7 linked regions of the Homo sapiens genome follow. The protein of the gene in region 4 purifies or fractionates together with the protein of the main gene of each other region. This does not show direct contact. Each region holds a gene or a part of one and is shown on either strand. Other genes may lie near its edges.

The links.
Region 1: the proteins of SIK1 (region 4) and NCKAP1 purify together in Homo sapiens (affinity purification with mass spectrometry, with the first as the bait; one large-scale study listed by BioGRID). This does not show direct contact.
Region 2: the proteins of SIK1 (region 4) and CLTB purify together in Homo sapiens (affinity purification with mass spectrometry, with the first as the bait; one large-scale study listed by BioGRID). This does not show direct contact.
Region 3: the proteins of SIK1 (region 4) and GINS2 purify together in Homo sapiens (affinity purification with mass spectrometry, with the first as the bait; 2 studies listed by BioGRID). This does not show direct contact.
Region 5: the proteins of SIK1 (region 4) and KLK10 purify together in Homo sapiens (affinity purification with mass spectrometry, with the first as the bait; one large-scale study listed by BioGRID). This does not show direct contact.
Region 6: the proteins of SIK1 (region 4) and VAPA purify together in Homo sapiens (affinity purification with mass spectrometry, with the first as the bait; one large-scale study listed by BioGRID). This does not show direct contact.
Region 7: the proteins of SIK1 (region 4) and IL36G purify together in Homo sapiens (affinity purification with mass spectrometry, with the first as the bait; one large-scale study listed by BioGRID). This does not show direct contact.

Annotation. Positions count from the first base shown.
Region 1 is NC_000002.12:182,950,830-182,955,396, reverse strand, and holds part of NCKAP1 (nck-associated protein 1), read left to right. Parts: intron 1-2,065; coding exon 2,066-2,284; intron 2,285-2,473; coding exon 2,474-2,604; intron 2,605-2,894; coding exon 2,895-2,992; intron 2,993-4,567. UniProt on the Homo sapiens protein: Part of the WAVE complex that regulates lamellipodia formation. The WAVE complex regulates actin filament reorganization via its interaction with the Arp2/3 complex. Actin remodeling activity is regulated by RAC1.
Region 2 is NC_000005.10:176,395,349-176,399,915, reverse strand, and holds part of CLTB (clathrin light chain B), read left to right. Parts: intron 1-1,868; coding exon 1,869-1,986; intron 1,987-2,197; coding exon 2,198-2,309; intron 2,310-3,383; coding exon 3,384-3,437; intron 3,438-4,567. UniProt on the Homo sapiens protein: Clathrin is the major protein of the polyhedral coat of coated pits and vesicles.
Region 3 is NC_000016.10:85,675,698-85,678,954, forward strand, and holds the end of GINS2 (DNA replication complex GINS protein PSF2), read right to left. Parts: intron 2,970-3,257; coding exon 2,843-2,969; intron 2,641-2,842; coding exon 2,515-2,640; 3' UTR 501-2,514; downstream 1-500. UniProt on the Homo sapiens protein: Required for correct functioning of the GINS complex, a complex that plays an essential role in the initiation of DNA replication, and progression of DNA replication forks.
Region 4 is NC_000021.9:43,413,398-43,417,613, forward strand, and holds the end of SIK1 (serine/threonine-protein kinase SIK1), read right to left. Parts: coding exon 4,146-4,216; intron 3,721-4,145; coding exon 3,345-3,720; 3' UTR 1,086-3,344; downstream 1-1,085. UniProt on the Homo sapiens protein: Serine/threonine-protein kinase involved in various processes such as cell cycle regulation, gluconeogenesis and lipogenesis regulation, muscle growth and differentiation and tumor suppression. Phosphorylates HDAC4, HDAC5, PPME1, SREBF1, CRTC1/TORC1.
Region 5 is NC_000019.10:51,011,521-51,014,823, reverse strand, and holds the end of KLK10 (kallikrein-10 preproprotein), read left to right. Parts: coding exon 1-24; 3' UTR 25-2,085; downstream 2,086-3,303. UniProt on the Homo sapiens protein: Has a tumor-suppressor role for NES1 in breast and prostate cancer.
Region 6 is NC_000018.10:9,930,458-9,935,024, reverse strand, and holds part of VAPA (vesicle-associated membrane protein-associated protein A), read right to left. Parts: intron 3,216-4,567; coding exon 3,063-3,215; intron 1-3,062. UniProt on the Homo sapiens protein: Endoplasmic reticulum (ER)-anchored protein that mediates the formation of contact sites between the ER and endosomes via interaction with FFAT motif-containing proteins such as STARD3 or WDR44.
Region 7 is NC_000002.12:112,975,985-112,981,319, reverse strand, and holds the start of IL36G (interleukin-36 gamma), read right to left. Parts: upstream 3,315-5,335; 5' UTR 3,242-3,314; intron 2,701-3,241; 5' UTR 2,682-2,700; coding exon 2,627-2,681; intron 2,100-2,626; coding exon 1,995-2,099; intron 1,312-1,994; coding exon 1,172-1,311; intron 354-1,171; exon of another isoform or gene 1-353. UniProt on the Homo sapiens protein: Cytokine that binds to and signals through the IL1RL2/IL-36R receptor which in turn activates NF-kappa-B and MAPK signaling pathways in target cells.

The sequences.
Region 1 (4,567 bases), on a different chromosome or scaffold from region 4:
AAAATTTTTATTTATTTGACAATTTTTTTCTTCAAAGCCTTGAAGCAATTTATAAAACAAAATTTTGCCAAAAGGTTTTCAAAGTTTCTGTAGTCATTAACAGGTGGTGTTTGTATTTGCACTATATGCTTAACAATGTGTTAAGTACTCTAGGTAATAATGAGATAAAGATAGAACTGTAGCTGGTGAGATGACTAAAAGAATTAGAGAACAGAATATGACAGTATATAAAGTGGCACTAAGTTGAGTGTTAAATTATCAGTTGACTTGAGAAGAGTCTGGTGATGAACTGTCTTTTGTTCTCCTTAGTAAGTCAGGCATCCTGACAGTAAAACCCAGAATGCCCTAGAACTTAGACCAAAGGGGCATTGTGCCTTGTGGTGTTTATTATTCTCAAGTGGGTTAGAGGTGGGACATTGGTGGGTGGAAGGGAGAGTTCAGTGTACAGCTCCCTTGTTTTCCTTGTAAACAGTCTGCTTTGTTAATCCACAGAGAAGCAGTTTTTTTTTTAACCAAACATCTACTTAGTGATTAGGATCAAGGCAAGGGGAACAGCTTGTTTACCTTGGAAAGATTTTTTATTTTATTTAATTTATTTATTTATTTATTTTGAGACGGAGTTTTGTTCTTTCGTCCAGGCTGGAGTGCAGTGGCACAATCTCAGCTCACTGCAACCTCCATCTCCCAAGTTCAAGCAATTCTCCTGCCTCAGCCTCCCGAGTAGCTGGGACTACAGGCGTGTGCCACTGTGCCTGGTTAATTTTTGTATTTTTAGTAGAGACGGGGTTTCGCCATATTGGCCAGCCAGATAGCTTGTGAATATTAGTGGGTTGGTTTTTGTCAATCAACTGAGCACAGTCTTAGGACTTAGGGATTATACACTAGGATAGCAGTTTTCATCTTGCGTTGGCTCTTCTTGGCCTGTTTCTAGTGATGGGATTTGTCGGTTGTCTTTTAAGGATTCATCCTTACAAATACAAGTCTAAGATCTTTACAGATCTAATGCTCAGGGAGTTTTAAAGAAAGTGAAATAGGGGTGGTCAGTGTAGGATAAGATCATTTAGGGAAGTATTTTCAAAATTTGTGTTTCCTTTTTAGTCGTATACAGTTTCTTGAGATATAAACAGAACTGTTTTATATGCTATGAGTGATTAAAGAAAATAAAGTTGTTTGTTGCCTTATTTTGTTTGACTGTCATACAGTTTGTTTAGAGGCAGCACTAAGTCAGGCAGATCTGCGGTCAAATCCTAGTCATAACCACTTCCCAACAAAACCTTATCAATTTATGTGAGTCCTGAGCTTTATTTTTTTCCTCTGGGAGATATAGTGATAAGTACATTGTAGGTGTTTATTAAATGTGAGGATTGTAGGTAATTTATATAAAGCCTCAAAAACTACTGGCACCTAACAGTGTCAAATAAATTCAAGCTGTAGACTAAATAGTTCACTGTCCTTGCTACAAACAACTTACCATGTTAAAGCAATTTGTAAAACCCTCTTTATACTTAAATCACTTTTGTTACTGGTATACTTAGAATGTTTTTAATCATTTTATTCACATTTCGTTGTAGTTTTTAAGTTTTCTTTTTTCTTTTTTTTTTAAGACAGTCTCACTCTGTTGCCCAGGCTGGAGTGCAGTGGTGCAATCTCAGCTCACTGCAACCTCTGCCTGCTGGGTTCAAGCGATTCTCCTGTCTCAACCTCCCAAGTAGCCAGGATTACAGGCATGTGCCAGGCCCAGCTAATTTTTGTATTTTTAGTGGAGACAAGGATTCACCATGTTGGCCAGGATGGTCTCGAACTCCTGACTTCAAGTCATCTGCCCGCCTCGTCCTCCCAAAATGCTGGGATTACAATAGGCGTGAACCACCATGCCCGGCCTTCATTCTTTTTTTACGCTGTTTCCTGGGAAGATAATGACAGTAATTTTACAGCTTTGTAATAAATTATTTTTAAAGTTAATTTTATTGCTTGTTTAATATTAGATAACAGTAGGTTGAGTGGTTTATTTTACATGAATGGAAAAGTCAGAGGCTTTTCTTATTCTTCTATCCCTTCTTCCCAGGTCAATTGTTGGGATGACTATGTATAATCAAGCCACACAGGAAATTGCAAAACCTTCAGAACTTCTAACAAGTGTAAGAGCATACATGACCGTACTCCAGTCAATAGAAAACTATGTGCAGATTGATATTACAAGAGTATTTAATAATGTGCTTCTTCAACAAACACAACATTTAGACAGTCATGGAGAGCCAACCATTACAAGTCTATACACAAATTGGTAAGGAATGCATTTAGAAATTTGTAGTAGCGGAAAATTTGTAATGAAGTACTTAGGAAAATTAATTTTTTTGTGAATAAGTACTTATTCATATTATCAGTCAACTTAAAATTATATGCAGGAATGTATATCATGATACATTCTGAATTAAGCAGTTTCTTCCGGTTATAAGTTTACGTTTCTCCTTAGGTATTTGGAAACTTTGTTACGACAAGTCAGCAATGGCCATATAGCATATTTTCCTGCAATGAAAGCGTTTGTGAACTTACCTACAGAAAATGAATTAACATTCAATGCAGAGGAATATTCTGACATATCAGGTGAATAGTACTATACCACAGTTTAGAGAATGAAGAACACTTAATTCTTTTGCTAGTGTCTTGATTCTTTAGACTTTTGATTCTGTTGTGACTATTTCATTCAATTATATGCGTAACTGCATATTGTATCTTAGAATTACTTTTGCATTTTGTATTCTCTCTTTCACTCTAGAGACTTTTATCAGGATTTTACATTAGTTTTTATAATGAGATGTTGTATTGTGTTAATGTTCATTTTCTTAAAGTATTTGCTCTGTCGGAAGTATAAAATTAAGTATGTTTTCTTTCAGAAATGAGGTCATTATCAGAACTACTAGGCCCATATGGTATGAAGTTTCTAAGTGAAAGCCTTATGTGGCATATTTCATCACAAGTTGCTGAACTTAAGGTAATATAGTCTTTATTAATTTTAGCTTTTAAACATTAATTCCTGAAAAACATTTCAGGGATATGAGCAACAAGCCTACAATGTTAATTATTTTAATCCAACATGAAAGTACTAATATGAAAATGAAAATTAAATAGCTAGCAAGGCCTTTTTATGGCATCTTAGTTTAGTTTTCTCTATTTTGTAGGTGAGAAAATGGAAAGCGAAAATAGGTGAATTGACTTGGTAAAGGGGACAGAACCTCAGAGTCTTTGGCTTGTGGTCAGGCCTTCATAGTATTGAATCATGATGTTTTCTTTGAAATACCAGCTTCAAAATTCCAGCCAAAGTTAACAATTTGTTCACACTTGCGGTTTGAATGTATTTGCTTTCCATAGATTATAATACAAAAATTACTGGGCTTATTGCTTTTTCTTAGGTAATCTTTTAAATTATCTTATGCCCTCTAAGTTGAATGAAAAATGCCTTCAGAATGCTTAATGTTTCAGTAAAGATGTAAAGGAACTGAAGCAACAACATTTTAAATACCTTTTTATTAGCCTTTTAGAAATATCCTACAGCTACGGTGATTTATATTAAACGAATCTGTATATATAATAACTATGTAGTTTTTGAAAGAATTTGAACTTGGGCCACCAAAACTTTTGAACTTACAAGCAGAATAGAGAAATCATGTTTTAAAATAAACATTTTCTTCGTAAAAGCTTTTTGGTGGTTACTTGAGTCTTGATATTTTAGTTTTTGTTTGTTTGTTTTTTTTTTTTTTTTGAGATGGAGTCTCACTGTGTTGCCCAGGCTGCAGTACAGTGGCACAATCTCAACTCACTGCAACTTCCACCTCCGAAGTAGCTGGGACTACAGGCACGCACCACCAAGCCTGGCTTATTTTTGTATTTTTAGTAGAGACGGTGTTTCACCGTGTTGGCCAGGCTGGTCTCGAACTCCTGACCTCAAGAGATCCACCCACCTCGGCCTCCCAAAGTGCTGGGATTACAGGCATGAGCCACCGTGCCTGGCCAATTTTTAGTTTCTTAAGAAAATGATAGACGGTAGTGGTAAGTAGCTTACAGTTCAGATGTAGCACATAGAGTTCTAAATGTGGTTAATCTGATTTACTGAAAATTGAGCAAATATATAGAACAAGTTAATTTCCACAAACTTAATAGTATTTTGCTGAGTGAATAAATAGCAAGAGTCAGTGTGACTAAAAGCTTAGTATAATCAAAGATTTAAGGAGAGGCAATATTACCCATTGGTTAAGAACTCAAGCTTTCAGCCAGGCGTGGTGGCTCATGCCTGTAATCCAGCACTTTGGGAGGCCGAGGTGGGGGATTGCCTGAAGTTAGGAGTTCAAGACCAGCCTGGCCAACATGGTGAAATCCCCCCTCTACTGAAAATACAAAAATTAGCTGGGTGTGGTGGTGGGCACTTGTAATCCCAGCTACTAGGGAGGCTGAGGCAGGAGAATCACTTGAACCCGGGAGGCGGAGGTTGCAGTAAGCTGAGATCACACCACTGCACTCAAGCCTGCATGACAGAGTGAGACTCTGTCTCAAAAAAAAGAAAAAACTCAAG
Region 2 (4,567 bases), on a different chromosome or scaffold from region 4:
CCGGTCTATTCCCATTTTTCTTTCTTTTTTTTTTTTTTGAGACCAAGTCTCACTCTGTGGCCCAGGCTGGAGTGCAGTGGCACGATCTCTGCTCACTGCAATCTTCGCCTCCCAGGCTCAAGCGATTCTCCCAAGTCCCAGACTCCTAAGCAGCCATTACACCTGGCTAATTTTTTGTATTTTTAGTAGAGACGGGGTTTCGCCATGTTGGCCAGGCTGGTCTCAAACTCCTGGCCTCAAGTGATCTGCCCGCTTCGGCCTCCCAAAGTGCTGGAATTACAGGCGTGAGCCACCGTGCCTGGCCTTTTTTTCCATAATTAAAAAAACTTTTTTGAAAATAGTGACAGACTCTTGCTGTGTTGCCCAGGCTGGTCTTAAACTCCTGGCCTCAAGTGATCCTCCTGCCTTGGCCTCCCGAAGTGCTGGGATTATAGGCATGAGCTACCATGCCCAGCCCCATTTTTCAAATGAGAAAACAAAAGTCAGGCAAGGTTAAGCAATTTCTCCCAGGCCTTACAAACATTTCATAGTATCAGAGGTGGCATCTGAACCGAGACAGCCTGGCTGCAGAGTCCAAGTTCTTTCCCATGGTGTGATCTGAGCTATGATCATGCTGCATATCTCAGGGATGCTTCTCTACTCAACAAACATCTACTGAGCATCTGCTGGGCCAGGCACTGTGCTGGGCTCTGGGGACATAGCAGTGAAAAGGACAGAGATGACATTCTGATGGCAGAGACAGACAAACACATTATAAAGTAAGGTCCTTTTGGGCTGGTCACGGTGGCTCAAGCCTGTAATCCCAGCACTTGGGGAGGCCGAGGCCGGTGGATCACCTGAGGTCGGGAGTTCGAGATCAGCCTGACCAACATGGAGAAACCCCGTCTCTACTAAAACTACAAAAAATTAGCCGGGTGTCGTGACGTGTGCCTGTAATCCCAGCTACTCAGGAGGCTGAGGTAGGAAAATCGCTTGAACCTGGGAGGCAGAGGTTGCAGTGAACCAACATTGCACCATTGCACTCCAGCCTGGGAAACAGAGGGACACTCCATCTCAAAAAAAAAGTGAGGTCTTGAGGTCTTTTTGGACTAAGTGTTAGGAGTTAATACAACCACAATAGAGAGTGATTTTAATGACGGTAACACAAGGGACTCACTGTGCCAAGCAGTATTTTTATTTTTTATTTTTATTTGTTTATTTTTTGAGACGGGGTTTTGCTCTTGTTGCCCAGGCTGGAGTGCAATGGTGTGATCTCGGCTCACTGCAACCTCTGCCTCCCGGGTTCAAGTGATTCTCCTGCCTCAGCCTCCGGAGTAGCTGGGATTACAGGCATGCACCACCACGCCTGGCTAATTTTTTGTATTTTTAGTAGAGTCGGGATTTCTCCATGTTGGTCAGGCTGGTCTTGAACTCCCAACCTCAGGTGATTTGCCGCCTCGGCCTCCCAAAGTGTTGGGATTACAGGTGTGAGCCACTGCGCCCGACATTCTTTATAATTTTTAACTCATTTCATCCTTATGTCCTCCCATCAGAGTGCATACTGTTATTTAGCCCATTTTATGACAAAGAAAGTGGCTGGCACACGCTTTCTTGAGTCTTCTGCTTTGGGGGTATCAAAACCTATAACTGGGCCAGAGGCAATGATCAGGCACAGAGAGGGTGAGTAACTTGCCCGCAGTCACACAGGTGGCGGAGTGTTGCTGGCAGAGGGAACAGCAAGTGCAAAGATAGGTGTAGTCACCAGAGACAGTGGGTATGAGGTTGTTTGAGGCTGAGTTATCCAGACATGAGTGGGTCCCCAGCAGGGGCAGCAGAGACAGCGGGGCAGGTGTGCTGGCTGGATAGACTGCTGCGTGTTTGTGTTCTAGGAGGCCAACGGTCCTGCTGATGGCTACGCAGCCATTGCCCAGGCTGACAGGCTGACCCAGGAGCCTGAGAGCATCCGCAAGTGGCGAGAGGAGCAGAGGAAACGGCTGCAAGAGCTGGGTGAGGGCGGGGCTGAGGCGGGGTTGGCTGGGTGGGCTGTGTGTGGGGTGGAGTGTGGGGAGTCCTCGGAGTGCATGGGATGCTGCATGCCTTAATGTGGGACTGGGCCGGTGCGGCCCTGTGGCTGCCTGGCAGGGGCCAGGGGAGGAGCGCGGCCGGGCCTGTGCATCCCAGCTGGAAAGCAGCCACTCATTCTCTTGTGGGGTCCTAGATGCTGCATCTAAGGTCACGGAACAGGAATGGCGGGAGAAGGCCAAGAAGGACCTGGAGGAGTGGAACCAGCGCCAGAGTGAACAAGTAGAGAAGAACAAGATCAACAACCGGTGAGAGGGCTGTAGGGACATGAGGGGGCCATGGGGACATGAGGGGGGCTGTGGGGACATGAGGGGGCCGTGGGGACATGAGGGGGCCATGGGGACATGAAGGGGTGGGGACATGAGGGAGCTGTGGGGACATGAGGGGGCCGTGGGGACATGAGACGGGCTGTGGGGACATGAGGGAGCTGTGGGGACATGAGAGGGGCTGTGGGGACATGAGAGGGAGCTGTGGGGACATGAGAGGGAGCTGTGGGGACATGAGAGGGGCTGTGGGGACATGAGAGGGGCTATGGGGACATGAGAGGGGCTGTGGGGACATGACTGAACACTGCCCAGTGCTCCCTGCCTTTGAGGCTCTGTCCTTCACGGTACAAGGTCTTCCAGGAAGGGAAAGGCCTGTTCTGGGAAGCTACCCTTCTGTCTAGGGAACTGCTGCATGCCAGGCTCTGGGGTAGGCACGGAGGAGATGGAGATAAGGAGGACCCAGCCTTATGTCCTCAAAGGGCGCAGAGGAGAAAAACACACATGTTCAACTAAGCTCAAATACAGTAGGGCCCTCTGCACGAAGGCCATGGAAGCAAGGAAACAGGTCAGGGAGAGACCTCTGTGTCTTGGGACTTGGGCTTTGGAAGATGACTAGGAGGAAAAAAGGGAAAAAAGGGCAGGAGGTAGGGGGGCATTCTAGACCTGGGTACGAAGAAAAAAATGTGATGTATTAGGCAACAGGGGGCCAGGGAGCGGTGGGAGAGAAGGCAGGAACCTGTGGACTCACACTGTAAGGGCCTTGGCTGATGAGTTGGGCAGTGACATGGGCAGTGGGGAGCCACTGAAGGTGTTTGAACAGGAGTAACATGATCAGGGATGAATTTTAGAGAAGGTGCTGGGGCCAGGGTGAAGGTCCCCATTCTCCTGTTTGGGGCTGTGGGTCGTTGCTGAGCCTTCCAGAACTATGCTTCCTAACATTTCTCCCACTGGAGGTACTAATGCTGTCTCTCTCTCTCTCTCTAACCTTCTGCCTGCCTGTCTGTCTTGCCATCTGCCTTCCCCCACCTAACCCCTTCCCTCAACCTTTCCCTCAAGGATCGCTGACAAAGCATTCTACCAGCAGCCAGATGCTGATATCATCGGCTACGTGTACGTGTCTGTTTTGCTTCTCTGTTGGGGGAGCTAGAGAGGGAATGGCCACCACAGTTTCTTGAGTTTCCTGCTTGTGGGATATAAATGAGTGTGGCTGGGCTCGGAGCAATGGTCAGAACAGGAGGCAAATGCCCTGGTGGGTGCAGGCAGCAACCACCTCCCTCCCTCCAGTGAAGTGGAGGCTGCTTGGCTAAATCAGAGCCTTGCAGGATAAAGGCAGAGAAAGGAATGTGCTTGCCACTTATTCCCATGTGGGAGGGGCAAATGGCAGAGCACCCCAACTCCCTCCCTCTGTGATGTCTCTTGGTGGGTGTGTGGGGTGAAGGGTTTTTTGTTTTTTGAGATGGAGTTTCGCTCTTGCTGCTCAGGATGGAGTGCAGTGCTGCGATCTCGGCTCACTGCGACCTCCACCTCCTGGGTTCAAGCGATTCTCCTGCCTCAGCCTCCCGAGTAGCTGAGATTATAGGCACATGCAACCGTGCCCGGCTAACTTTTGTATTTTTAGTAGAGACGGGGTTTCACCATGTCGGCCAGGCTGGTCTCGAACTCCTGACCTCAGGTGATCCACCCACCTCGGCCTCCCAAAGTGCTGGGATTACAGGCATGAGCCACCACACCCAGCTGAAGGGGTCTTTTATTCAACAAAACAGACACTGAGCATGGGATGCTGGAGGCATGTAAAGGACAAGAGCTGCTCCTTTGTGACATCCATCTCTTCCTCCTGCCCCAGTGCACTGACTTTGGCCATCAGCCCCTGCCCAGACCACCACAGGCCCCCTCACATGTTTCAGGTTTGGGGTCTACTTGGTGTGATGAGTAATCAAGACCAGGGTTGGCAAACAGGTTATATCTCGTGCCGACGTCAGTTAGTTGGTAGAGACATCCTGGAGGGTGGTGGTGGGGATTGTGGAGCTGAAGAGAAGGTACTTGCTGTTCTTCACTCTAGGTGTGCCCTGGCAGCCCGTCATGTGTCGAGGCTAAGCCTCCTCTCACAGGGCACAGAGCACACCAGAGCCTTCGTCTGCTTCCTTCCACTCTCCCTCATTTAGTACTCTTTGGCACTCGCCTTGTGCCAGATTGGTAAGACACCCACAGGCCGCCCCCCTCACCGTGCTCATGGTCTGGAG
Region 3 (3,257 bases), on a different chromosome or scaffold from region 4:
TCCCTGAGCCACATGTTTCACACAAGTGTAGAAAATGCCAGGGATCCACCACAAGATGGAGATGGTCAGCACAAACCGATTCTGTTCCTCTTTAAAGTGTATATTAGCCACTTAGCAATCTCTATATTCTTTCAAGTAACCAAGCTGTTGACTTTCTTACTACTTGCAGTAGCCTGTCCCCAACTTTTCCATCCAGTGCTTAACCTAAAAAACTCCTTAACTCTGCCTTGACCTGAGGAAGACCATGCTAACTGGTGTTATTTTGTATGTACCCTGTGCTTAATTCTATAACAGTAAACCCCATACGCAGGTGGGAGGGAGGAACACCGGTGCCTCGGTCACTCTGGGGGCAGTTTAGATGCTGTGAAATTAAACCTGTTCTAAGTGTACTTGTTTGAATTAATTGTATTGTAATATTATTTGTTGAATGTAGTAATTAGGTATTTATGAATATATTGCTGTAATTTCTGACAACATCCAAAAAATAAAATCTTCCTAAATTATGTTAAGAGGAAAATCTTTTTTATGATATAAAACAAAGCCAAACAAAGAAAAGCTCAATAACTATACATCTCCGCAGACGGAGCTGCCTCCACTGGCTCAGGCTCTAAGAGGAGGGCATTAGGACCCCTTGCCCTCCACAATAACAAGTGGTTTCATTCTAAAAGATCCCCAGATGAAAGCAGGAGGATTCCAAGGAAGGCTGAGATGAAAGAACAAGTCCTATGAGCTGAACCAAGTCTGAACAGCACCTTAAATTATGGAGACCTCATCTTTTGGTCCCAGTCTTCCAGGTCTGACCCTTCAGTGTCCAAATAACCACCAAAACCTGCCTGGCGGGGACACGTGGGCAGCAACATGGAGTGATAGTGTGCAGCATGCTAGACACTGGAGGGCAGATGCTGGGTGATAAGTCTTTAGGCTCAGCCTGTCACACATGCGCATTCTCAGAGCTCCCCAGACAGCACCCCACTGCTTTTGGCCCACTGGTGTCCAGCCAAAAATAGGCTGGCCAGGCATGGCGGCTCATGCTTGCAATCCCAGTGCTTTGGGAGGCTGTGGTGGGAGAACTGTGTGAACCCAGGAGTTCGAGGCTGCAGTGAGCTATAATCACGCCACTCTACTGCAGCCTGGATGACAGAACGAGACCCTGTCTAAAAAAAAAGTTAAAATTTTTTTTGTTTGAGACAGAGTCTTGCTCTCGTTGCCCAGGCAGGAGTACAGTGGTGCAATCTTGGCTCACTACAACCTCCGCCTCTCGGGTTCAAGCGATTCTCCTGCCTCAGCCTCCCGAGTAGCTGCGACTATAGGCGTGTGCCACCACACCTGGCAAATTTTTTTTTTTTTGTATTTTTAATAGAGACGGGGTTTCACCATGTTAGCCAGGATAGTCTCAATCTCCTGGCCTTGTGATCCACCTGCCTTGGCCTCCCAAAGTGCTGGGATTACATGCATGAGCCAAGCCAATGTGCCCGGCCAAAAATTAAAGTTTTTTTTAAAGCTGATTACAGAACCTTCTATCCATTGCATGATGCTGGACGATCATTTCACCTCTCAAGGTAATGTAATTTCTGTAAAGGTCCTAACATTTCCAAAATGCTACGAATAAAGTAATTTTCTCTTAGGAAAAAAATAATTTCCCCTGAGCCCACTGTTACCTACAACAAAGAATCCTTCCCCAAATCCATCAAGAGCAGCACTGAAAGTGACTTTTCTTCTAGCATTGTCACTCATGCTCAATACATTGTCACTCATGCTCAATACATTGGATTCGTTTTTTTCCTGACTCTCCTCTTGATAAGCAACCCATTAAACCTGAGCTAGAAGTAGCCAAGAGAAGGAGACACCCCAGGTGTTGGTCTGCAGTTTCCACTTAACTGCCGTGTGCCTCAGTTTCGTTGACTGAGTCATCTCAGCCACAGGCTCAGTCCTTTTACTTGGTAGTTACGCAGCACAAAAACCTAGAGAGTCAGAGCTGAGTTGGGTCCATTTTTATTGTGGATCAGGGCTTAGAGGATAAGCACCGGTCAGCATTGTTGGCTGCACCATCTGCCATCCTTCTCTGTGAGCCACCTCTGTGAGAGAGTCTAAATTCAGCCCAAGAAATCAGGATCAAGAAGGGGTAAAAAGCCGTGGACCACATGGCCACTCCTGCTGTATCTACACCTACCAGTCACTGAACACCTGCCCAAGTGTGATGGCTTCCATGCAGGAGACCCAAGTGGCTCTGCTAGGGAGAATGACTTATTTACCTAAGGCTTTTTTATTTCTCAAAAGTGGGGGGAAAAAGGGCTGGTTTCTAGAAACAGATGTGGAATTGAAGAATGTCCCAGGGAGCTAAGTTTTAAGGACTAATCACAAACTTGTTTCTCCAACAACATCCTGAATCCATTCCTTGCACCATCACACATTTTTCATGCATCAGAAGTGTTTCTAGAGCTCCAGAACCACGAGTACCTCATCACGTCCTGAGCGCTCACATCCCCCAGCAAGCCGCCTGCACCAGGCCTTTCTCTAGAAGTCCTGAGACTGAGTACTCTCCAGAGGCTGGAGGTTCGTGCGGAGTTTGTACATGTGGTTGAGCGCTTGTGTGAGGAAAGTCCCGCTGGTGTTGATCTCCATCAAGGTCAAGTTATCCAGCTAAAGCAAGAAAACAGACCAAGTTGGCCAAGGAGTTTTTGATTTTGAGAAAAAGGTAAACTCTACTGAATAAAAATAAGAAACCAATGAACTGTTGAAAAGCACAGCTAGTAATGCCTGCCTGTAATAGCCTCAGCAGACGGGAGCCATGTGAAATTATGCGGCATCAAGGCCACCAGCACCCAGGCAAGGCGGCACCTACCTTGGCATGTGCCTCCTGCTGTCTCACAAAGCTGTCAGCAGACACTCGGAGTTTGGCTATACGAGTGTCCCACATATCCTTGACCAGGGTCCGGATTTCGTCTGCCTTCGGGATGTTGTCTGAAGCACTAAAGGAGCAAGGGCTAAAGTCAGTCGGGGAACACTTGATAACCTGAGGCAATGCTGGATAGAGTGGCTCTTTTCAGGCAAAATACCGTGGCTATTCCAGACTCAGAAAGTCTGTTTTGCTTTATTTTCAACTTTAGGGTGTAAAGATTTGTAGCAGTTAAGCTTGGTGCGGCAGTGATCCACATGGAGTTTCTTTTGCTCACATTAACTATCCCATGGCAGGCTGCTGAACAGGACTGCTGTTTACCTAAGAAAATTAGTAGAGAATCAGCTCTAAGTCAGAAGCC
Region 4 (4,216 bases):
TTGTACGGCTGAGGCCTATTCCACTGTCGGCATGGACTACATCTTCTTTGTTTGTTTTTTTGAGACAGAGTTTCGCTCTTGTTGCCCAGGCTGGAGTGCAATGGCACAATCTCGGCTCACCACAAACTCCGCCTCCTGGGTTCAAACGATTCTCCTGCCTCAGCCCCCCCGAGTAGCTGGGATTACAAGCATGCACCACCATGCCCCGCTAATTTTGTATTTTTAGTAGAGATGAGGTTTCTCCATGTTAGTCAGGCTGGTCTCGAACTCCCAACCTCAGGTGATCCGCCCACCTCAGCCTCCCAAAGTGCTGGGATTATAGGCGGGACCACATCTTCTTGATCCCTTCATCGGCTGACGGCCCCTCGGGCTGCTTCCTAGTATGGCTGTCGTCATGCTGCTGTGAACATGGGTGTACAAACCTCTCTGGGCCCTGCCTTCAGTTCTTCAGGGTCCATACCATTAGGAGGAGCGGCCGGATCAGGTGGTGGTTCTAATCTTTGAGGAGCTGGTACACTGCTCTCCCATAAAGGCTGCGCCATTTGACCCTCCCACCAACAGCGCACAAGGGGTCCATTTTGGTAAGGACCACCTTAATGGGAGCGAAGAGGTTGAAGAGCTTTTTTTAACCAAAATATCCACCAGGTGACAACATGAACAAGTCCTTTGTTCTCATAAAGCAGCAGTGTGTGCCCTCTTGCTAGAAGGTGGTGAAGTCTTTCAGAGACCAGGAAATGGTTTGGCTGTGAGATTCTTCCAACTGCTTAATTTATAACCAGACTCAGAGAACCTGGCGGAGGATGGGGTAAGGATGGATGGTGCCGGCAGCCCCGGGCGGTGCTGAGACTTTCAGTGACTGAGCCCGGCCACTGGGGAAGGGTCCTGAGGAGGGGGCAGACCACGGGGCCACCTGTGGCTGCCGCAGGGGGAGGGGTCCTCTGCAGACGGAAGGCCATTAGTTCCCTGCAGTGAGGTGGAATGCAGGAGTTGGCTCCCTGCCCTCCTCTTTAAGATTTGAAACTTCTACAAGCCTGGAGGATGTGGCCTCTCAGGGAAGCCGCTTGGAAGGAAAGAGCTCCCAGAGAGATGAGAGAGAGAGGAAGGGAAAAAGTCAAGGTTTTTTCCTTCCAAATATTTTATTTAAATATTAAATTAAAAAACATACATCAACTAATCATTTGGCATACATTTCTCATGTTAACATAAGAGATAAAATAATTCAGTTATGGTAAAAAAAAAAACTATGTACATCTCAATCAGATCACGTAGTGTCTTTAAATAGGCTATTGCATTGCCGTCTGTATTACAGCACTGTCAAGAAATCTACAAAACACACATCACACACTCTTAAAAAAACAAGTAAAACACGCCTTTAACGTCCTCCAAAAGAGGTTCCACAGCAATAAGAAAAAACAAAAACCACCGTGAAAGTAAAGTGCTTGTCATTGCTTCAAAGAGGAAACACACAATGGTTTCTGAGGCCTTTGATCTATGGCATTAGAACAGAAATCATTTTAAAAAGGGGAAGGGGTTTTGTGTTGGAATCAGTTGTGCTACCTCTGTAAAAATGAAGGCAAGGGCCTGGCTGCCCCAAGATGGTCTGGATTCTCTCCCATCCCAAAAACTTCTTTATGAGCGAACAGGAGACTTTGGTGTTTTCTCTGCGGCAAGGCACCTGGTCTGCCCTCCGGACAGCCTTTCGCCCAGTCTTTGAAACAGCCACAGAGCAGCAGCAGCAGCAGCAGCAGGAATGGGGGCAGCCAGCTTCCCTGCGGCCCGGCACAGGCACAGCCCCCGGTGGGCACCAGCAGGCCAGGGATGCAGCCTCCTGCACTGGGCCCGCCTCCCTACCCTCAAGTAACTGGGTCAATCTTTGGCTTTTAAAAATACCCGCCTTTCCCCTTTCTCAATGCCTCTGTTTAACACTGCAGGGTTTAAGAAGCCGAAGTAGCTGAAGGCACCTGGGCTGGGTTTGGGGGCGGGGACTGGACTCAGGGAGCAGCATTGCCTTCGTTGCCTTCCAGAGGCTTCTGGCTGGTGGAGCCCCACGGAGTCCACCTGCTAAAGGTGCGCCCAGACCTGCCAGGTAAGGGCCGCCCCTTCCTGCCGCCTCCACCCCAGTGCTGAGGGAGCGAAGGCCCTGGGGCCCCTTCCTCAATGCACACCTGTGCTGACAGGGACGCTTCTTAACAACAGGAGCGAGGGAAGCTGAAACCTGGAACACAAACGTATAGTACAAAATGTAACAAATAAGTAGTGTCTACCTGTCTCCCATGTAGATACATATACAGGATTTGCTTTAAAAAAAAAACAAAAACTTAAAAACACTGACCTAAACCTCTCACTTTACCTTCCTTGAACAAAACCCAAAAAGCCTAGGTGGGGGGTGGGGAGGGGGGTCCCGGCCCAGGGCAGGCACCGCCCTGAGCCATGAGCCATGAGCCATGAGCCTGTCTCCCAGCTGCCCAGCCCTACAGTCAGCCTCCAATATTGCACAACTTCACCCAAGTCAGGTGTTCTTGTTGGACCCCATCATGAAATGCATAAACGTCAGCAGCAGCGGAAACGGGAGGTGCAGCAGGAAGAAGCTTCTGGGCTTCCGCAAGGGCACGCAGGGGCTCAGGGCCAAGTGACCCTCAGGACGGAGTCCCCAGCACTTTGAAGTCACCTCTGCCCTCTCTGAGGTTCTTCCTGCCGTTCCTCCGCAGAGTCCTGGAAAACTAATCCTTGAGCAGTTTATGAAACTTCTCAACTAAAATAAGAAAAAAAAGTCTTCCAGGTTTTGATTTCAGGGGAGAGAATTCCTAGAATCTGTAGATGATCTTTGCCTGGGCTGCTTTAAAACTGATACATGAAGCAGAAAGTTCACAGTTTTCCTTAAAGCAGAAATCAGGAAGTGGAGAGCGTTGACTAAAGAAATGGATAGTAATCAATGCACGCGCACACACACACACACACACACACACACAAGCGGACAACAATGCGCCCGCTCGTTTCCGTAGACGTCCGAGGTAATCATCTCAACCACGACGAACCCAGAGAGAGGGGCCGAGATCCCCACACCACGGCACTGCACGTGTTCCCTCCACCCCGCTCCCCTCCTGCCCCCGCCCCCAGACACGCCCCTCAATTATCTTTCTTCCTAAAGTTTCCAGTCCCTACTCAAAGTTGAGGTCACTCAGTGCAAGAAAAAAATAAAACAAAAATAAACTAAAAAGCCAAAACACCTAACGTATTGCTTATTTCGCTTCTAGAAAGTTCTTGGCTTTGAGGCCAGATGTCTTCACCTCCTCTGAAGTTATTGCTGTAAGAGTCAGTGTCCGTGCCAGGATGCAGGGCTGCCCTCACTGCACCAGGACAAACGTGCCTAGGGAGCAGGGCATCAGGTCCTCCATCTCACAGTCCCCCTGCAGCAGCCCCAGGGGCTCACAACCTGGGGCCAGCCTGGCCAGGCGTGGTGGGGGCACAGCGGGGAGGGCGGTGGGGCCGGTGCCAATGTGCAGGTGTGTGTCCAGGAGCTGCGCCGCTGAGGCCACCGGGGACGCGCCGGTCTGCAGGAGTGGGGGCGGCAGCAGCGGGAGCCCCGACGTGAGGAGGGTGCTGGGGAGCGGGGCAGCCCCAGGGCCATCACAGGGGGCGATCACAAACGGGGCAGGGGCCGGCTGGGGGGCCTGGGAGCAGCCGGGTGCAGCGGCCGGGTGGTGCTGTAACTGGAGCAGCCTGTGGGAACAGAGGACAGGTGGTCACTGCGCCGGCTCGCAGGGTTCTCGGGTTTCCGAGTGCCCGTGTGGCAGGGCCCGCCCGAGGAGCTGCCAGCCGCGGCTGCCGAGGGCAGGTGCGTGGCTGATCCCTGACCGCGCCCCACCTTTCATTCTCCACCCGGTTTCTCAGCAGCTCAGAGATGCGGCCACAAGGCGCCCTCGCTCCCCGCCACCCTCACCCACCCAGGGACTTTAAAGGACACGCCCGCCTGCTGCACCCCCATGGCTCAGCACCTAGGACCTACGCCCCACACATCTCCCTGGCTGGGAGCGGGGGTGTGCACTGGGCTACAGAGAGGAGGGAACCACTTAGCAGATGAGGTTCCTCGAGGAGATAACCTGCCGTGTGCCCACCCGGGGTCCCAGGGCGGGGGCAGGCCCTACCTCTGCTGCTCTAGCACCTCCTCCAGCAGGCTCCAGCCCTCCCGGCTGCCGGCTGCGCCGCCGTGCAGGCC
Region 5 (3,303 bases), on a different chromosome or scaffold from region 4:
AATAAAGTCATACGCTCCAACTGATCCAGATGCTACGCTCCAGCTGATCCAGATGTTATGCTCCTGCTGATCCAGATGCCCAGAGGCTCCATCGTCCATCCTCTTCCTCCCCAGTCGGCTGAACTCTCCCCTTGTCTGCACTGTTCAAACCTCTGCCGCCCTCCACACCTCTAAACATCTCCCCTCTCACCTCATTCCCCCACCTATCCCCATTCTCTGCCTGTACTGAAGCTGAAATGCAGGAAGTGGTGGCAAAGGTTTATTCCAGAGAAGCCAGGAAGCCGGTCATCACCCAGCCTCTGAGAGCAGTTACTGGGGTCACCCAACCTGACTTCCTCTGCCACTCCCTGCTGTGTGACTTTGGGCAAGCCAAGTGCCCTCTCTGAACCTCAGTTTCCTCATCTGCAAAATGGGAACAATGACGTGCCTACCTCTTAGACATGTTGTGAGGAGACTATGATATAACATGTGTATGTAAATCTTCATGGTGATTGTCATGTAAGGCTTAACACAGTGGGTGGTGAGTTCTGACTAAAGGTTACCTGTTGTCGTGATCTGACCACGTCCCGGTGAAAGCGTGTGTCCAGGGAAGAAGTGCACAGGGTAGCCCCCAGTCCCAACCTTCCATCCCCAACCCTTAGGGATGATGGAAGAATCATTTTCCTCACCCTAGTTCCAAGTCCCAGGAAACACCTTTTAACCACTTCCTTCTCATCTCCCACTGTTTCCCACTTCTGGTTCCACCCAACACCAGTTCCTCCGAGCTAGGCTGGCCCTGAGTCATTAGCACCTTCTCTGCCTTCATGAGGCCACTGAACTCAAGGGACCTCACCTTGCTTCTATCCCAGCCTCTAAGACCAGAGGGCCGAGGGGGTAGTGAAGATTGGGAAACCCTTGCCACCTCAACTGCCCAGCTTGTGCCAAGAAACCTCCCTCTGACATTTAGGGGAAAATCTTTGGTTTGTCTGTTATTAATTGGCTGTGAGATTTTCGTCCTGAAAACTTGGGAGGAGGAATTGTTTGATTCTCCCTGAAATTGGGGGAGGGAAGGGGAGTTAATACACAGAATCCAGGTAAGGCTAATAGAAGCTTCAGTGTCCGCTGGGTGTGGTGGCTCACGCCTGTAATCCTAGCACTTTGGGAGGCCGAGGAAAGCAGATCATCTGAGGTCAGGTGTTCGAGACCAGTCTGGCCAAAATGGTGAAATCCCATCTCTACTGAAAATACAAAAACTAGCCAGGCATGGTGGCAGGCACCTATAATCCCATCTACTTGGGAGGCTGAGGCAGAAGAATCACTTGAACCCGGGGGGCAGAGGTTGCAGTGAGCCAAGATTGCACCATTGCACTCCATCCAGCCTGGACAAAAGAGCAAAACTCCATCTCAAAAAAAGAAGAAGTTTGAGTGTCTCAGCTTATCCTGAACTTTGAAGCAGTAACATAAGCTAGCTGAATATAGGCACAACAGAAATTTCCCATTAAGCACGGGGTTTTTGTTTGTTTGTTTGTCCTTTCAGTTACCAATTTATGGAGCATCTATTATGTGCCAGGCCCAGTGCTGGGTGCTGGGGACATACGTAGGGGTGATCACAAGGTCCCCCACCCTGCAGAGCCCACAGGAGGTTGATGTACAAGGTCTGAGCACACAGCTCCCTTCCGTGGCCTCTTTCCCATTCTGCCCCCATTAGCACACGCAGGAAATGTCAGACAGGCGTATCAGCTGGGTTTGTCATCCAAAGACCAGAAGCGAGGTCGGTGGAAACTTGAAAACTCGATTCATTATTAAAGGCAACTCACCCGTCCCTTTAGTCACTCCACAATGTTTATCGAGCCACGTCTTATGCCAGGCCTCAAAGATGAATCAGACCAGGCACTACCCTCAAGGAGCTGCTAGTTAGGTCAGGGAGACAGGCCAGTCTTACATTCCTGTCATTCAGGTCTCCACTCAAAAGTCACCTCCTCCGGGAGGCCTTCCTGAATTGCCCAGGCTATAGGAGTCCACTTTTGGTCATCCAGTCCCGATGCTCTGTTTTTTGTTTGTTTGTTTTTTTTTTTAATAGCACCTATTATACCTGAAATTATCTCATTTGTGTTTACTTGATAATGGTCTATGTCACCCTTCCCCACAAATTCCGTGAGGGCAGTGATTCAGATATTTGTTCACTGTGATTTTCTAAGCTCCTGTATTGTGCCCGGCACACAGAAGTCACCCCCGTTGCTGTGTGAACACATAACACAAATAGATCAGTGCTGTAACAGAAGGGGGTATGGGGTGCACCACACCAAGTCCACAGGCTGTGCCTGAAGGAGTCAGGAAAGGCTTCTCAATGAGGGGACATTTGTGCAGGAGTTTAAAGGATAAGTAGGAGTTCACCAGGTAGAGAAGGAAATGCATTTCAATCACTTTGCTGTATGACTTTGAGCAAATTACTTGAATGCTGTCTCTTCCTCAGTTTTCACTCTGTGAAATGGAGACACCTGCTTAATTAGACTCCCGTGAGAGTTAAATGAGATAGGCTGGGCGCAGTGGCTCACTCCTATAATCCCAGAACTTTAGGAGGCTGAGATGGGTGGAATGCTTGAGCTCAGGAGTTTAAGATCAGCCTGAGCAACATAGTGAAACCTCGTCTCTACTAAAAAAAAAAAAAAAAAAAAAAAAAAAATTAGCCTTGCATGGTGGTGCACACCTTGTAGTCCTAGCTACTCAGGAGGCTGAGGCAGGAGGAATACTTGAGTCCAGGAGGTTGAGGCTGCAATGAACTATGATCATGCCGCTGCACTCCAGCCTTGGCAACAGAGACCCTGTGTCAAAAAACAAAAAACAACAACAACAAAAGGATAATTAAATGAGATAATATACATGCAAAGTTCACCTAACACCAGGCACTGAGAACACAGTCAATAAAGGTAGCTATTAAAATGCTCATTTTTTTTTTATTTTTCTTTTGAGAGTCTTGCTCTGTTGCCCAGGCTGGAGTGCAGTGGCACGATCTAGGCTCACTGCAACCTCTGCCTCCCGGGTTCAAGCAATTCTCCTGCCTCAGCCTCCCGAGTAGCTGGGATTACAGGCCGCCCGCCACCATGCCTGGCTAATTTTTGTGTTTTTAATAGAGTCAGAGTTTCACCATGTTGGCCAGGCTGGTCTTGAACTCCTGACCTCAAGTGATCCACCCACCTCGGTCCCCCAAAGTGCTGAGATTACAGGCGTGAGCCACCGCGCTTGGTCTAAAATGCTCTTAATAGCAGTTAAGGTGGCACTTAGCACATAGTGGATACCCAGTCCCTGATCTCAAGGACTTCCCTG
Region 6 (4,567 bases), on a different chromosome or scaffold from region 4:
CTCCCAGGTTCACGCCATTCTCCTGCCTCAGCCTCCCGAGTAGCTGGGACTACAGGCGCCTGCCACCATGCCCGGCTAATTTTTTTGTATTTTTAGTAGAGACGGGGTTTCACCGTGTTATCCAGGATGGTCTCGATCTCCTGACCTCAAGATCCGCCCGTCTCAGCCTCCCAAAGTGCTGGGATTACAGGCGTGAGCAATTTTTAAGCATTTATAATTTCTCGTCTTTTAAGTTTTCTAAGGTTCCATGTGGTTGTAAGTCATGCTAAATTTATGTAACATGAGTCCAATATAACAGACTATACAAAGAATCAATCAACAGTTACACAAAATATGTACATGGCATTATAGAAATTATTTCCCTAACTTTAGATTATTTCTAAGATATATCTCTACACTTTCAAAAAGATAAACACGGGTAAATAAATGTAAGAAATAATTATGTAATAAAGTCTTATTCATAAGGTGTGTCTGAGAAGTCCATTAACTGCTATCAAGGTTAAGACAACTTTTTCAAGGGGCCAAATACACAGCAGCAGGAAATGTACTGGATAAAATGCCTCAGAATACAGCTTAAGCTAAATAAAATTCCATTAGCAACCTTCACTGAGTTAATGATTATAAGCTAATCACTATGAACCAAAAATTTGTGAATAAAACGAAAACTTACAACATGGTTAAGTTTATAGGAGTTATACTCTAATTTAGGTTGCAGACCACATAACAAGACAAAGACGATCTTGAAAACATATATAAAAATGTGCACAAATTGAAGCAAATTCAAAAAACAAAGCGTCAAAAGGACACAGGGAAAAAGAGAAATGAGCATGTAGTACAGAGAATTAACCAGAGAAGGTTGTTGGAAGAAGCATAGCTTTGAGTGACTGTAAATGGAAATACACTACACTAAAAACTGGAAAAGCCAAATTCTAATTAAGTAGAACAATCCAAGGGCATGTTTGCGTAATCAGTAACCAGTTTGTCTGAAGGTTTTAATAAGTCAGGTTTCTGTGGGAGAAAGTGTTTTGATACGTTGTTTTCTCAAGAAATATTAATACACAGAAACCAGCAATCTAGGCCCCTCAAAGAAAAAGTCATTCTGCATAGTTGTATGGATTCCTAGGGATATAACTGTTTGTACCAATAAACTATTTTTAGCCATGTGGATTGAAATAATTATATCTTCTGGCCAGGCGCAGTGGCTCACGCCTGTAATCCCAGCATTTGGGGAGGCTAAGGTAGATGGATCACTTGAGGTCAGGAGTTCGAGACCAGCCTGGCCAACATGGTGAAACCCTGCCTCTACTAAAAATACAAAAATGAGCCAGGCATGTTGGCACACGCCCGTAATCCTAGCTACTCAAGTGGCTGAGGCAGGAAAATCACTTGAATCCAGGAGGCGGAAGTTGCAGTCACCTGAGATCACACCACTGCTCTCCTACCTGGGCAACAAAGCAAGACACTGTCTCAAAAAAGAAAGAATTCTCTCTTCTTCCAATTGTGCTAAAGGCTTAAAGATGTAGTAGAAAGCAGCAACATGCAGAGTGCATGCATTCCTTCATCTTTATTTCCCATCTCTCTTTCCCAGGAACTGATGAATTAGACTTAGCAAAGAAACATGAAAAGCACTCCTCCCAGGCCTCCTTACCGCAAGACTCACTAAAACATCTTTTTCCTAGCTCTTGAGGTTTTTGGCTATACCTGCTGAGGGAAGATTTAGTGTCACCAAGAACTCTATGGTCTGTCCTTCATGGCCTTTGTAGTCAGGCTCCACCTCTAAATACTCTCTCAATGAGCCTACCCTGGGTTCTCTCTCTCTGTACCCAATTCTGCTGTGGACTTGAAAACTGATACAGAATTATTATAATATCTTAGGATTACTTATCAAGATCACCCAGGCTTTTTTTTTTTTTAAGGTACACTTTTTTTGTTTGTTTGTTTTGAGACGGAGTCTTACTCGTGCAGTCTCCGCTCACTGCAACCTCCACTTCCTGGTTTTAAGCAATTCTCTGCCTCAGCCTCCCAAGTAGCTGGGACTACAGGCGCCCACCACCACACCCGACTAATTTTTTGTATTTTTAGTAGAGATGGGGTTTCACCATCTTGGCCAGGCTGGTCTTGAACTCCTGACGTCGTGATCCACCCGCCTCGGCCTCCCAAAGTGCTGGGATTACAGGCATAAGCCACCGCGCCCGGCCTAAATGTAACATTTCTAAGTCATGCTCCTAGAGATTCCAATCTGGGAGAGATGAATCCATGTGTGTTCCTGCTCCCTGTGTTATTACAGCATATAGTGGGAGTTGAGAAGTACTGCTGTAAAGAAAGAGTAAATGCAGCCTGAGAGGTTCTCCCCTAAGTAAAATACATGGAACCATAAAAGTTCTCATATTTACTTCCTATTTCCTATTTCTCAGCTATATTAGTGAAGTCAGAGGGACTGAGAAAGAAAGAAACAGTTTATAGGGGGCATTAGATATGGTACCAGTATCAACTCCACAGCAGGAGTAAGTAATCCATATATGGCAAGCATACTTCTTTGACAAGTAAACACATAAGAGAGTAGTAAAATAAAAATAAAGTTTTCACACACAGGACACTGTTGACATTTACAATGAAAGGCATAAAGACTCATCTGATTTGACACAGTAGGCAAAAAAGTGGCATTGCACCTTTTTAAGCAAAAGAATTATGACACTTCTATAGCTGCATGCAATGTGTAATATGATCATGATCTGAAGGAGAATGACCCATCAGAAAAATGATATAATTTTTCAAAGATAAAATAACAAAGGCAGAGAAGGTAGTGGTTAGCTGTAGAAATAAAGACTAAAGTTTGTAATTGACAATAATTTCTTATAAACTGACCACACTCCCTACACAGAAGATGAGTGAGAAATTTTCTGAAACAGCTTGCAGAGTACTGTAACAAGACATCTTTAAAGGCAAAACCAGAATAATATAAGAATTATTTCCCTCCCTCCAGATGAAACCTTATTAAACAAAAACATAATCATAAAAGGTCAAAATTCAAATGTACATAAATTCAGAACATGATTTGCTACCTGAAACAGTCACAGTTGACCCTGGGTCAATAATTCCACTGTTGGGCCTCACACAGTACCGGCGAGGTGCTGTAGTCTTCACTTTGAAACACACTTTTCTATCCGATGGATTTCGCAATTTAAGATTTGTAGTGACTACATCTGTGAAGGGGCCTGTAAAGTTTAAAAATTAAAGAGAAAACAAAATTTAATTGGATTCTCAACAACGAAGGATTCAAAACTGAAAATATATAACCTCAATTTTAATTAAGTGCTGACATTTGTAGGCATAAATATCCCAAATGGCTACTAACACTGCCTTTCTCGAGGTGGCAGACTTAAAAACAAGTCATATTTTCTTCTTCATTCCCTGTATTTCACAAAATTTCTACCATAAACATGTATGATTTCTATCAAAAAAGTACTATGAAACTTTGGATCTATGAACTTTACAACTGTATTTTTACAGTATGTTGTTAATACGTTGCTGAAAATAACAGAATTTCCCAGTTGTCTGCAAACCAGTGTCAATCTTCAAGTTCATTTTACTAGGCCAACTGCAAAAATCTCTACATCTGAAGACCCTACACCCTATGACATCAGTGCTTTTGCTTCACCTCAATTTTGTTTGTTCATTCATTCAATCCATTCATTCATTCACATATTTGTTAAGTGTTTATTATGCCATATGCTCTAGATACAAAGTTTTTAAGCTTTGGTTCTGCACCCAAACAACATAAAATTACAAAACAAAGAACCCAAAAGGCTGATCCATTTTGCTGAAGAAAAGCCTGAAGAAAAATTATGCAGATTAATTTAGACAACAAAATAAATACCTGTTAATTTGGAGGAAGAACATAAAAACATGTTCCAGTTGGGAACAATAACCACAGTTCTAAGTATTCCAAAAGTAATTTTAAATCGTTCTAAAAACAATTCGTTTAAAGTTATGTATTTTTTAAAAAAGCTAGAAGGCTGGAATCAAAGACAACTATTATAAAGGCTCTCTTTTCTTTATTTCAATCTTAAGAATAAGCATGTCTTTTAAAATTTTACAAAGTCATTAAAAGACACTTATTTCAAGCCCTAAGAAGCAAAATGATTTTATGCTATGCTTAAAGTTTGTTAGTAGTAAAATATTTTCTAATAAATAAAAATTTGGAACTAGGATGAGAGGAAGGAGATAAAAATGAGTGAAAATTAGAAGCAAGCATAGAAAGGCAGAGAACCAGTTATAGAAAAGAAAGCATTTTAATATAACTAACAGGTCTGCATTTTTTTTTTAAAAAAAAAGCATACATATGACAAAGTATGATCTTCTGAACTGCTTGTTTCATTATATGGTCAAACTAATCATTCCATTTACAACATACAACCCTTGCTGCTTCTTCAACCCCAAGAGCTTCCATTATCTTTTTGAAAAGCATCTGATTAAAAACTCCACCATAAAACTAGTATGAGAGTAAAGACGAAAACTCCAATGTGTCCATTTCACTACATGAATCCACAAAATGGCTGGCTGGAGA
Region 7 (5,335 bases), on a different chromosome or scaffold from region 4:
CAAGCCTAAAAATGCCCCTGCAAAGAAGGGAGAGAAGGTACCCAAAGGGAAAAAGGGAAAAGCTGATGCTGGCAAGGAGGGGAATAACTCTGCAGAAAATAGAGATGCCAAAACAGGGAAGGCACAGAAAGCTGAAGGTGCTGCAGATGCCAAGTGTAGTGTGTGCATTTTTGATAACTGTGTACTTCTGGTGACTGTACAGTTTGAAAAACTATTTTTTATCAAGTTTTATAAAAATGCAGAATTTTGTTTTACTTTTCTTTTTAAGCTATGTTGTTAGCACCCAGAACACTTCATTGTTGTTTTTAGGGGAAGGGGCATATGTCACTAATAGAATGTCTCCAAAGCTGGATCGATGTGGGGAAAACACCTTTCCCTTCTAGTTTTGAGAGAGTTCCTCTTGGCTCCCAGGAGGAGGGATTCTCTGACTTTGACACACATGGCCACCTTGGCAGAAAAGCCTTGTGGTATGGAAAATAAATTCATTTTTATGTCCTCTTCTCCCTTTCCATCTTTCAGCATAGATTTAACTCCTTTAAGCCAGACATCTGTTGGGACCTGGCCCTCAATCATTGGTTACCAGTATGTCAGGCACTCTGGACTTTCCAGTGATGCCACTGAGATGGCACCTGTCAAAAGAGCAGTGGTTCTGTTTCTAGATCGTGGATCTTCAGATAAATTCTACCATTTTCATTTCACTTCCTGAAAGTCAGGGTTGGCTTGTGAAAAGTTTAAACCACATGCTAAATGTGAAATGTCAACTCTCACTCTAAACTCTCCCTGTTCAGAGCATCAGATGAAGACTTCATTGAGTTTTATAGTGGCTTTCTGATTTTTGGTAGTCCTTTGAACAAGGGAGTTTGAAGTTTGCTGCATACTCTTAACAATTGTCTGCCCATATCCTGCCTGAAATACCATGAATGTTTATGGAAAGTATCTTTAATAAAGCTGGATGCAGTTTGGCTTGGAAAAAAAAAAAGCAAAACAAGGACCTTAACTACTGACAGCCAGAATAAAAAGAAAAGTGTATTGCATGCACATAACTTAAAAGAGGCTGGGAATAAATATGCTTAGGAAGATGAGACTATTTCTTTTTTAATTCTAAAATTAGGTATTCAACCAAACACTTCTAAAAGGAAAGGCTTTTTAAATATTTTTCTTAGCTACTCACTTTTAGCTGCAATGTGGGCTGTTCTCCAACCTTCTCACAATACAAACACATTTCTGGATTCTGGATTCCCAAATAAATGGGATCCCCTCTGCCTTGCTCAAGAGCCTCTGGATACTTGCATGTGATAACAGCAACAGTGACTGTAAAGATAAGAGGAGAGATGGTATCAGTTTCCTTTTGAAGTCAGAAAGATTATTTGATTTAGCAGGGCAGTATCCTCAAGTGGATCTGGAAGAGAGCTGAAGAGTGTAATCCCAACTAGACCCACCAAATGGCCAACCCCCATATTCATTCATTCATTCATTCATTCATACCATGTGCCAATCACTGCCCTAGTAAATGAGCAAACACAGAGAGCTAAGCAGACAACAGAGTATGCTCTTGAGATTCTCACGCCTCTGCTTGAGCACATGGAGATGGGGAGCTCCTACATCAAGCAGCCCCTCTGATTCTTGGAGAGCTTGGTCCCTTTTGCAAGTTTTTCCCAATGTGATGCTGAAACCTGCCTTTCTGTGGTATTCACCCATTTAGTCATTTTAGGACACCCTGAAGTCATGCAGAACAAGCTACTAGTCTTCCATAAGACAGGGCTTCAGATGACTGACAGCAGCTTTCCTATTCCCTTGGAGGCTCCTCCACCATCTCTGGCTTCTTCATCTTAGTGGAACCCAAAGTTCTCCCTGACTTCTCTTCCCAATTAGGTGTGAAATTCTCCCCACTCCTGGTGGGCCCCATTGTAAAGTCACACTTTTACAAAAGGCTGATGCCAGCTTCCCAGCCACAGCAGTGCAAACAGTGGGGAAGGCACAGGGTGACCACTCACCTGGGGTCACACTGTCACTTCGTGGAACTGCCACAAGGTTCTGACCCTGAAGGGTCCACACTTGCTGATTCAAATCATTAATAGTCCCAGTAATAGGTTTACACACTGATTTTGGGATAGAGAAAAAAATGAAGAAATATTATAATCAAGGCTGCTTTACTAGACCCAGGAGAAAAGTATCTAACCCAGGCCATTTTGTAAGGAAGGTGTGGGGTTTGCATCCCCAAACTGACAGCACTCACATCACCCATCAGCCTAGCCTTTCTTTCTAGTGAAGTTGTGAGCTCTGGTGAGGAAGGCAAGGGCTACCAAGGGAAGTCACTGGTTTAAGAGGGCAAACTATCAAGACAGAGGGCAATGAGCAGTCTCACAGAACCTGTGTGCCAAGGCCCAGCTACCCTCTTTTGTGCCTACTCTGTGCTTGGCCCCGGTGCTGGGGACTGGAGCTGGATCAGTGACTAAGCAATAGCTCCCACCCTCCAGAAGCCCAGGGCCCAGTGGTAGGTGGGCAGCACCAGGTGGGAAGGGCAGTGTACAGAGAGGAGCAGAGAAGGCTGGGGCTTCCACAGGAGATAGCGTGAGTGCAGAGGGCCTAAGCCTCCAGAGCCCCATCCCAACAGCATTTGATTCACTTGATTGATAGACGGCCCTTCCTCCACCATCAGCGTCTCCTGGAGTGCCTCTCATAGTGTGGTTGTCTCAGCACCTGTGAAAGCAGACATAGAACAGATGAACCACAAGAGATGTTTCCAAGACCTTCCAGGACACTAGCTCCACAGGCCCTCATTCTAGACAGGGAGCTGGGAAACCTGGCCTGACACGAAGCTCTGGGCAGAAGTTCTGAGCCACATCTGGGACGAAACTTGAAGGAAGCATCAGCAAAGGGAGAACAGGTAGAATTTTCCTCCACCTGGAGATCCAGATAGTATGGTAGTGTCTCCCCTAGGAGTTCGAAGGCCAGGCATAAAATTTGACCTTAAATAACCCACAGGCACCTGATGCCCTGACTCCTCTTCTCTGAAGCCTCCACCCCTTCATCGGCATTGTTTTTGCCTAGGAGCAGGGGAGGGTCCCATGCCAGGGCCACTCTGCCAGGATCCCAGCAACTCCCCAGTAAGAAGCAGCCACACATAGGACAAAGCACAGAGCCAGCCTGATGTGGCCCTTCCCTTCATTAAGCCCAAAGCACAGATGAGAGGAAAGGCTCCAGAGGGAGGGAGAAGAGGTTTTCCAGCTATTGACTATACCTGGCAAGAAAGGGTCTTTATCTACAGTCCAGGGGACTGAATCGTGGCTCCAGCAGCTTCCAAGGTCAGTGATGGGTTCTAATGGAGCCTGGATCATTTATCTGGATGAGCAGAGAAGGAGGCTCCAGCTTCCTGGGTGGGGCATGAGAAACGTATGACATGAAAGAAAACCAGCTCCTCCTACCAGAAGATCCTGTGAGGCTCGGAGGAAGAAATCACAGAATTAGCACAAGTATCACCTGTCCGGGCTCGCTGAGAAATAAGTGTTGAGCCAATCCGCACAAAATCAACCACAAGGAAATGAGGTTGATGACAGATCCTAGGTTTCTCATAAAGGGGAAACTAAGGGAATTTCCCAGAGTTCAGCTCTCCTGTCATGTCATTCTAGAGCTAGAACTGGAAATGCCAGGCACTCTCATGTCAGGGACTCCATCTCCTGGGACTGGGAGCCTTGCCCTCTGCAGTCAGGCTAAAGGCATCCTGTAAGAGCAAAATTAGCCACACGTCTCAGGCAAGGTCCCTGTGGCATTTCTCAACTACCCCACCTAAGGCCACACCTGAATGGAAAGCCAGGCAGTAGAGCTCCCCTACCTAACACTCTTTCAGCTCCATCCACATGGGGAGCCACAGGGACTATGCAGACTGGTCTTTTAACTGAGGCAATCCTAGTTTCAGGTACCCTCAAAATGCAGTGGACTCCAGAACTGCCTAAGGAAGTAAAGAGGTGGGCAGCGATTTCTCCCAAATCTGAGCCCCAGATGCCAGCTTATCCCCCACCCTCTGCCCTAGGTTCCTGATCAGTGGTAATAGTTATTTTTATATCTTGTTTATACACCCCATCCTATCTGCTGTAGCCAAGCCTAAAAATTTACTGAGGTATAAGTTAACTACTAGAGTGAAGTGAGTTTTAGGAGACAGACTTGAAGCACTAACAGCTTCAGGTTTACCCATCTATAAGGAAGAAAAGCACAAAGAATGAGACAGAACCTTCCAGATAAGCTCATCCATGAGCCCCTCTTCCCAGCCCTGCAAAGAGTCTCCTGACTCAACGTCTCTTACTTTTCACCCTAATCTCCTTTCTGGCCTTGGAAGAACACAGTCCTTTCCTGCCATGGCCCCAATTCTATCACTTTTGGCTTCCAGTGTTTCTGTGACCCTAGGAAAGAGTGTGGTAATGCCAGGTGCACTTTTGTTCAAAGTCAACCTGAGCCAGTGCCACCTCACTTGAGTCTCCATTGCCCTGTTAAAAATCCCCTCCATTACACATCAGTCAACATAACTCCTTTCTTGGGATGTTCACCACAAAACAGCATCTAAAATTCCCATCATTTGACCCCCCAAATCCCTTAAGCCTGAATTTCCAACTGGGATCCCTCTGAAAGCAGAATCCATGCTAGGAATTGCAAACAAAGGGAATTGAATAAAAGGAACTAGATACACGTGTGTTGGAAAGCCAAAGAAGATTAAGGGATTGCTGTGGTATCTCAGATAGTAACAACTACAGGAAGGAAACAAAAGGGAACAAAAGAACCTAGGTCTCAAAGGAGCGCTTTTGTAGGACTTATCCCCAGATATGAGTCGGAGGTGAGGCGTTCTCTGCCAAATTGATGCTCAGACCTCTGAAAAGAGAGTACAGTCTGGTCAATGCTTGGAGCATGAAGGTGGAGGGGAGGGGTCAAGAAGAGGATGCTCAGAGGACTCACAGGACACAGCTCTAACAGCTGAATTTTCTTTGGTTCAAAAGCCTGTGGGTACAGCTAGAACTTCCCACGCCCAGATGAAGGTTGCAAAAACTATAAAAGAGGGTGACATGTGTCCTCTTCAGCCTCCGCCCTCATTCCACTTGGTCCTGACCCTTCAATAGATTCCAAGCACTCAGAGAATCCAGCCCTTCCTAGAATTCCCAGCACTCAGCATCCATCCTGAAGTCCCTAGTTTAACTGTTAGTGTGAATAAGTATCAGAGAAATTGGAGGGAGTAGGAGTGATGATGATAAAAGGGGAGAACTGAATCACTGGGGTTGATCAGTAAAGAGCAGAGATCACATCTACTGAAGAAATGGCCCCGAACGTTTATCTTAAAGTGGAAGGGATG